Linked DNA regions of Homo sapiens: region 2 is reported to be linked to region 1. Evidence: microRNA targets listed by miRTarBase, many of them from high-throughput screens and not tested one by one. Region 1 holds a microRNA gene; the other region holds the end of a gene's coding sequence.
Evidence for each region. Region 1 holds the annotated microRNA hsa-miR-8065 (UGUAGGAACAGUUGAAUUUUGGCU, at 1,565-1,588, opposite strand). A microRNA usually pairs through its seed, bases 2 to 8, with sites in the 3' UTR of a target mRNA and lowers its output. Matches are read on the target gene's strand: a 7mer-m8 pairs with bases 2 to 8, a 7mer-A1 pairs with bases 2 to 7 and ends in A, and an 8mer does both.

Region 2: miRTarBase lists KHNYN as a target of hsa-miR-8065. Seed matches in the 3' UTR shown: 7mer-A1 at 232-238.

Annotation. Positions count from the first base shown.
Region 1 is chr16:5,630,863-5,634,120 of GRCh38, reverse strand. MIR8065 (microRNA 8065) reads right to left here and starts at 1,654; the gene lies at 1,555-1,654. It also overlaps a transcript of RBFOX1 not described here.
Region 2 is chr14:24,436,697-24,439,696 of GRCh38, reverse strand. It overlaps KHNYN (KH and NYN domain containing), which reads right to left. Exons shown (of 8, transcript NM_015299.3): 8 at 1-2,661. The coding sequence ends at 2,412. Among named protein-coding and RNA genes, the nearest start is that of SDR39U1, 4.6 kb to the left of the region's middle.

The DNA.
Region 1 (3,258 bases):
TATAAAAGGTAAAGGGTAAGGATCATTTGGAAGTTGGACCTCAGAAACTGCAACTAATGACGCTTATTTGAGTCTGTGTCCTCTAGATGGCAGTAGAGGAAACACCATTACACTCAAGGTGGGCTTGCTAACAGCTCACAATTGGCCTTCAAATGGGCATCGTGATAATTAGGGATGTTGAGCATTTTTTCGTATGTTTGTTGGGTGTCTGTATATCTTCTTTTGAGAACTGTCTATGTATTTCCTTTGTCTACTTTTTTTTTTTTTTAAGACGGAGTCTCACTCTATCGCCCAGGCTGGAGGACAGTGGCCTCCGCCTCCTGGGTTCTAGCCATTCTCCTGCCTCAGCCTCCTGAGCAGCTGCGATTACAGGCATGCACCACGACGCCCGGCTAATTTTTGTATTTTTAGAAGAGACGGAGTTTCACGATGTTGGCCAGGCTGACCTCAAACTCCCCACCTCAGGTGAGCCACCCACCTCGACCTCCCAAAGTGCTGGGATTACAGGCGTGAGCCACCACACCCAGCCCTTTACCCACTTTTTGATGGGATTATTTCTTTTATTCTTGTTGATTTGAGTTCCTTGTAGATTCTGGATGTCAGTCTTTTGTCGGATACACAGTTTGTGAATATTTTCTAAAAGACTACATATTGGGTAGAGAGTCGTTGCTCCAGTGATGAGTGCAACAAAATCTCAGAAATCACCACTAAAGAGCTCATCCATGTAATGAAAAACCACCTGTAACCCTAAAACTATTGAAAGTTTTTTTACAAAAAGAGCACCTATGCTTTGGAATGAGAAAAGAAACCAGAAGTGTGTGGTTCCAGGGAGAAGAGTGGGAGCTTCAAAATGTTCCAACTTGCACTGATGTAAAAGAGTTGTTGGCTGGGCGTGGTGGCTCAGACCTGTAATCCCAGCACTTTGGGAGGCCGAGGCAGCTGGATCACGAGGTCAGGAGTTCGAGACCAGCCTGGCCAATATGGCGAAATTCCGTCTCTATTAAAAATACAAAAATTAGCCGGGCATGGTGACTGGTGCCTACAGTCCCAGCTACTCAGGAGGCTGAGGCAGGAGAATCACTTGAACTTGGGAGGTAGAGGATGCAGTGAGCTGAGATCATAACACTGCATTCCAGCCCAGGTGACAGAGTGAGACTCCACCTCAAAAAAAAAAAAAAAAGGAGTTGTTAAGATTGCAAGCCCAGGAATCAGGTGACCTGGGTTGTGTTCCCAGCCCAGTTTTCTTAGCCACAGTGGAGAAAGTTACGGAAATTCTGTGTGCTGCAGTTCTCCCAGCTTATATGGAAGAGTACCTACCTCACAGGTTTGAAGGAAGGCTCATTCATGACCACTTTGTAAAGTGTTATCACAGCAGCATGTGCGGGACAGTAAGTGCTCACTAAATCACAGTGATGCGGCTGTATTAAACCTTCCCAATATGCCCTTATAGGCTCCAAAACAAAAGACAAATAAACATAGTTGGGCTAGGTGGCTCGTGGACAGGGCCTGGAGGTGAGTGCTATTTCCAGATAAATCACCGCTGATATTGTGTGTAATTACATGAAGCCAAAATTCAACTGTTCCTACAAGACATCAAAGCCCTTGCCTTGCTGAAAAATACAACAACAACAAAAATGATGGCTCTCATGTACTGAGCTGTCACTATGCTATGCACTTTTCATCTGCTTAATTTGATTCTCACCACAACATACAGGGTAGCTATTAGCATCTCCATCTTAAGGGGGTCAAATAACGTTGACCAGGAAACAGCTACAAGAGGTAAAAGGGCTTGCCCAAGGGACACAGAGATTGATGTGGGTTGGGAACCCAGCAGGTGTAACTCCCATATTCATCCTTACTCTCGTTCATCAGACTGTGGCTAGTTGTCTCATGACATCGTCTCTAATACAGAATAATAATTATTTTTAGTATACTGAATGCATACATGTGATAGGTACCATATGAAGTAGCTTACCTGCATCCTGTGTCCTTTGTGAAGAGGCCTCTTCTGGGCACACACAGATGCCCTTCCTCTGGTACCTCTGTGCCCTCCTTGGCTTCCTAGCTTAAGTAGGACTGGAAAAGAAAGCTCAGACATCCAATCCTCCTGTGAGATCTTTAGACGGAAGCTTATAGAGAGCAAACAGGTGGAGGCTTAACCTTTCTTTCCTACTTGGGGATGCCATTTCTACTGTCTCCACTCTATCATTCACCTGACCCTAGTGAACACCCCAGTGTCCATCCCAGAAAATGATCCTACAATGGGAGCTGCCTTTGGCCAAATTTTGACTTTGTAAGAGAAAAGCTCATCTAGACAATGCTCAACTTCCTTTCACCAGACTCTGGACACTTCATTGAATAAATACTCAGTAAGCACCTCCTAAGAGCCAAAACTCAATACTAAGTACAAAAAATGAGGGTAGGGGAAGGCAATGATCAAGTAGCTTCCGTTCTAGGAGGTGGGAAACATGAATGCAGAAGGGCAAAGGAGTCTGCAATAAATTACCTAAAACTGAAGTCAAAATGTAATGGATACATAGAAGAGACACTTTTTTTTTTTTTTTAAATATGGAGTCTCGGTCTGTCACCAGGCTGGAGTGCAGTGGTGCGATCTCGGCTCACTGCAACCTCCGCCTCCTTGGTTCAAGAGATTCTCCTGCCTCAGCCTCCCGAGTAGCTGGGACTACAAGCACCCGCCACCATACCCGGCTAATTTTTGTATTTTTAATAGAGATGGAGTTTTGCCATATTGGCCAGGCTGGTCTTGAACTCCTGACCTCGTGATCCACCTGCCTCGGCTTCCCAAAATGCTGGGATTACAGGCGTAAGCCACCACGCCTGCCCGAAGAGAGACTTTTAAATGTGCATGAGGATTGGAGAGAGCCTCTAAGACCCTGACCAGTAACATCAGCCACCAACATCATCATCATCAACCTCATCACCTTCATCAGAGCAAATTCCGACATACTCAATGACCGGTTGAGTTTTCTTTGCTTTGCTTTAGATTGTTTCAAATGTAGATGCAGCACCTCTGAGTGCCAACAGTCACGTTTTGGGGACTGGTTTGGCCATCTGTTGTGGACAACCTCTAGATACAAGTGCGACCCTTCCAAGGGGAATCACTTCACCACTCCCACTTTCCCTTTCTTAAATGTCAAATGTTGCCATTCTGCAGCTGTTTTGGAATAGATGGAGAAAATAACATCAGAAACCAACTAAAAAAAACATATTTGGTCATTAAACATCAGCAAACTAAAA
Region 2 (3,000 bases), not on the chromosome of region 1:
TCCCCAAAGACGGGGTTTTGAAAGTTACAATGAGCAGTCTCTCTCATCACCGTTTCCCTTCTTGGTCCTTCAGTTGCCAAAAGAACTTGTCACAAGTTTGGGACATCAGGTTATGATAAAGATAGACACTAGAAGAGAGAATGATGATCCATTTCCAATGGGCCCTGTAGTCACCCTGGATGCTGTCAGAGTGCCATTAGGATGCCAGTAGAGGAAGAGGTAAGGCCCAGGTGTAGGATAGCCTTCAGTCTGTGTCACCAAATGGCAAGTGCATTACTAACCACACAGTGGTCCCAGTTTATCAGGCTGCAGCAGAACAAAGTCAACATCCCTGTCTATAAGAAGCTTAGGACTTGCCTCTCATCTGACTGGGGCCACTCAGTCAACCAGGGCCCTTAGCACAAAAGGGCAGAAGACACTTTTGGTCTACTGCACACCCACCATCACTGAAAGTGAAAATGGCAAGAAACCAATCAAGAAGTATAAACAACCCTATCAGGAAAAAAAAAAACTCCAAGGTTTTCATCTAGGACCCTTTTTACCTACCTAAAGCTGTGACATCTGCCATAACTTGACCAGACACAGTTCCCCCAGCCACCAGTTCAGGCCATACTAACCAATCTCTTCTCAGGGACCGCTGGGTTATCTCTTAATCATTGTCACCTCTTTGACCAGCCTGTCTCCAACACACCTGCCCCCAGCCTGGGTCAGTATGGTACAGTGGTGTAAATCACCAAAAAGGAAGGGGTGAGGACACAAGGACCCTCCCCATCATCATTACACTCGCCATGCAGTATTCAACTCCCTGTGCCACTCAGAGGGAGGCAGAAGTCAGGGCCTGGAAAAGATCTTGTCTAGAGACTCCCCACAGGCCCACACAGAACAGAACCCAGGGGCACCTGTCCTACTTCTTTATCTGGTCTTGGATTCCAGGAAGTTGACTGGCTCTGTATTGTTCCTGGAGGTATGACCAGCCTCAAAGGTGGATGTAACAGAAAAGCATACTTTAGGCTGCACTAAAGTAAGGAGTACTGATTAATACCGTCTACACAGGGAATGTGCTACCCTGGAGATAGTAAATTCCCTGGCACAGGAGGACTTCAAGCAGATCCAGGGCAATGACCTCTAGGAATCAGGGTGAAGAAAGCATGTCAGTAACAGCAGAGTTGGTCTGGTGGCCAGTCAAGTGCCTTCCAACTCTGGTTCTTTCATTTTCCAGATAATTGGTTCATCTAGAACCAACTGGTTCAACTTCCGTTAAGTCCTCCCATCCCCATACACACACACATAAAGCAGAAGTGTGCCTTGCTTTATGCAACATACGTCTTCCATAGAGAAAATGTTAGGGTCGGATCACATTAATATTGTCATTGCAGAGCATGGCTTCATCGATTGGTGAAAAATCGACGTGTTCATCTCAACACCAGGAAGTGCATCTAACCAGGGATTTGCCAACACATTTGTTAGTCTGTAAACAACACCTGAATACAACAGGAGAGCTGCCATTTATAGGAACCCTGAGAGTATTTTGATAATGCAGTCATCCCTAATTTACCTACTGTGTAAATGTAGATTTTGGAGGTTGCTCAAAAGGGATGCAGCCATTATAGGGCACGTTATAGTGAGAATGCAGTGTTAAAATCTAGGGTGTGGATCCTGGAGACAAAGGACCCACATCTCTCTGAAAGTGAGGTTTCGGTTAGAGAGCCTGTGCAGCCACAGGCAGACACACCTGAGACTTGGTCCAAGCACCTTTCCTCCAAGAGGCTTTCCTCTATGTTCTCATTTCTCCTCCCAACAGGTATTTTTACCCCTGATTTGTAGGCAGAAGTAAAGCCCAAGCAACTCAATCAAGGTCACAAAACAGGCATAGCTGAGACCAGAAGCCAAGTCTCCCTCTGCCTTCTTCACTAGCTCACTCCACCCTATCGTGGCCCAGTCCACATAACACTGTGCCAGGGCCTAGCATCTCCTTCCACGCTCCCAGGAGCTCAGCAAGGGAGCATCTTGTTCTCTGGCCATCCAGAGCAGCAGCCAGGGAGAGGAACAGCTTAACTTCCTGTCACTTCCTGCCCACCCTGCCCTCCACCCTAGCTCAGCTTGGAGGTGGAGCCAACAGTCTCAGTCTCCGGAACTAATCCCCTCTAGCAGCCCCCACTCCCTACAGAAACCCTGTGCTAAGGCAAAGTTGAGAAGTTAAGGCTGAGCAGAACCTCTTGAGAGCTGGCTGAGGTCCTGACTCGGTAAGATCAGTTCACTTTATGGACCTGTCCCAAAGTGGCTTCCCTGATCCAAAGCACCAACTCAGGGTGCCTCTGGATCAGAGTGAGCAGCAGAGGGACTCTCACAGAAAGGGCTGAGCTGGAGGCGGCTGGAGCTGACAGGGCGGCAGCCACTCAAGCAGGTGAGGCTCAAAAGTTAAGACTGAGCAGGGCCTCAGACAGTTGGTTGATGTCCCGGCAGTATGGCTCCCGCTGCAGGATGAAGTCCACTTTGTGATCCTGACCCCAAAACACCTCCAGCAGCTGCCGCCGGAGCCGCTCTGTTTCCCGGGTCTTCCGAATGCCACCACTACCTTTTTCCTCTTCTCTCCCCTGCTGCTGTTTACCATGTTCTGCAAAGCCCCTGGAAGGATGCTGAGCCTTAGAAGACCCCTGTGTCCTGGGAAGAAACAGACCAAAAAGAGCTGATGAGCATCCTGGGGGGGAAATTAGATCTTAGTGGGCACCCCTCTCGTAATTGTCCTGCCTATTCCTGGCTTTGGGGGAGAAATCCTGAAGTTCCTGAAGCTGACCACTGAGTGGCAGTATCAACCCACTTCTGAAGGGAAGATGGGCCGTTCTTTTAGAAACAGGGTGAACTCTGCCACTATTATGATCTAGTTCTAGTCCTAAATGAATCACTTATGTAATGGTCAGCAGAAGGCATGCTGAATACAACTGGCTGTCAGTATAAGCAACCATTTTCCAAATAACTCCATCAAACATGCTGATTAAGAGA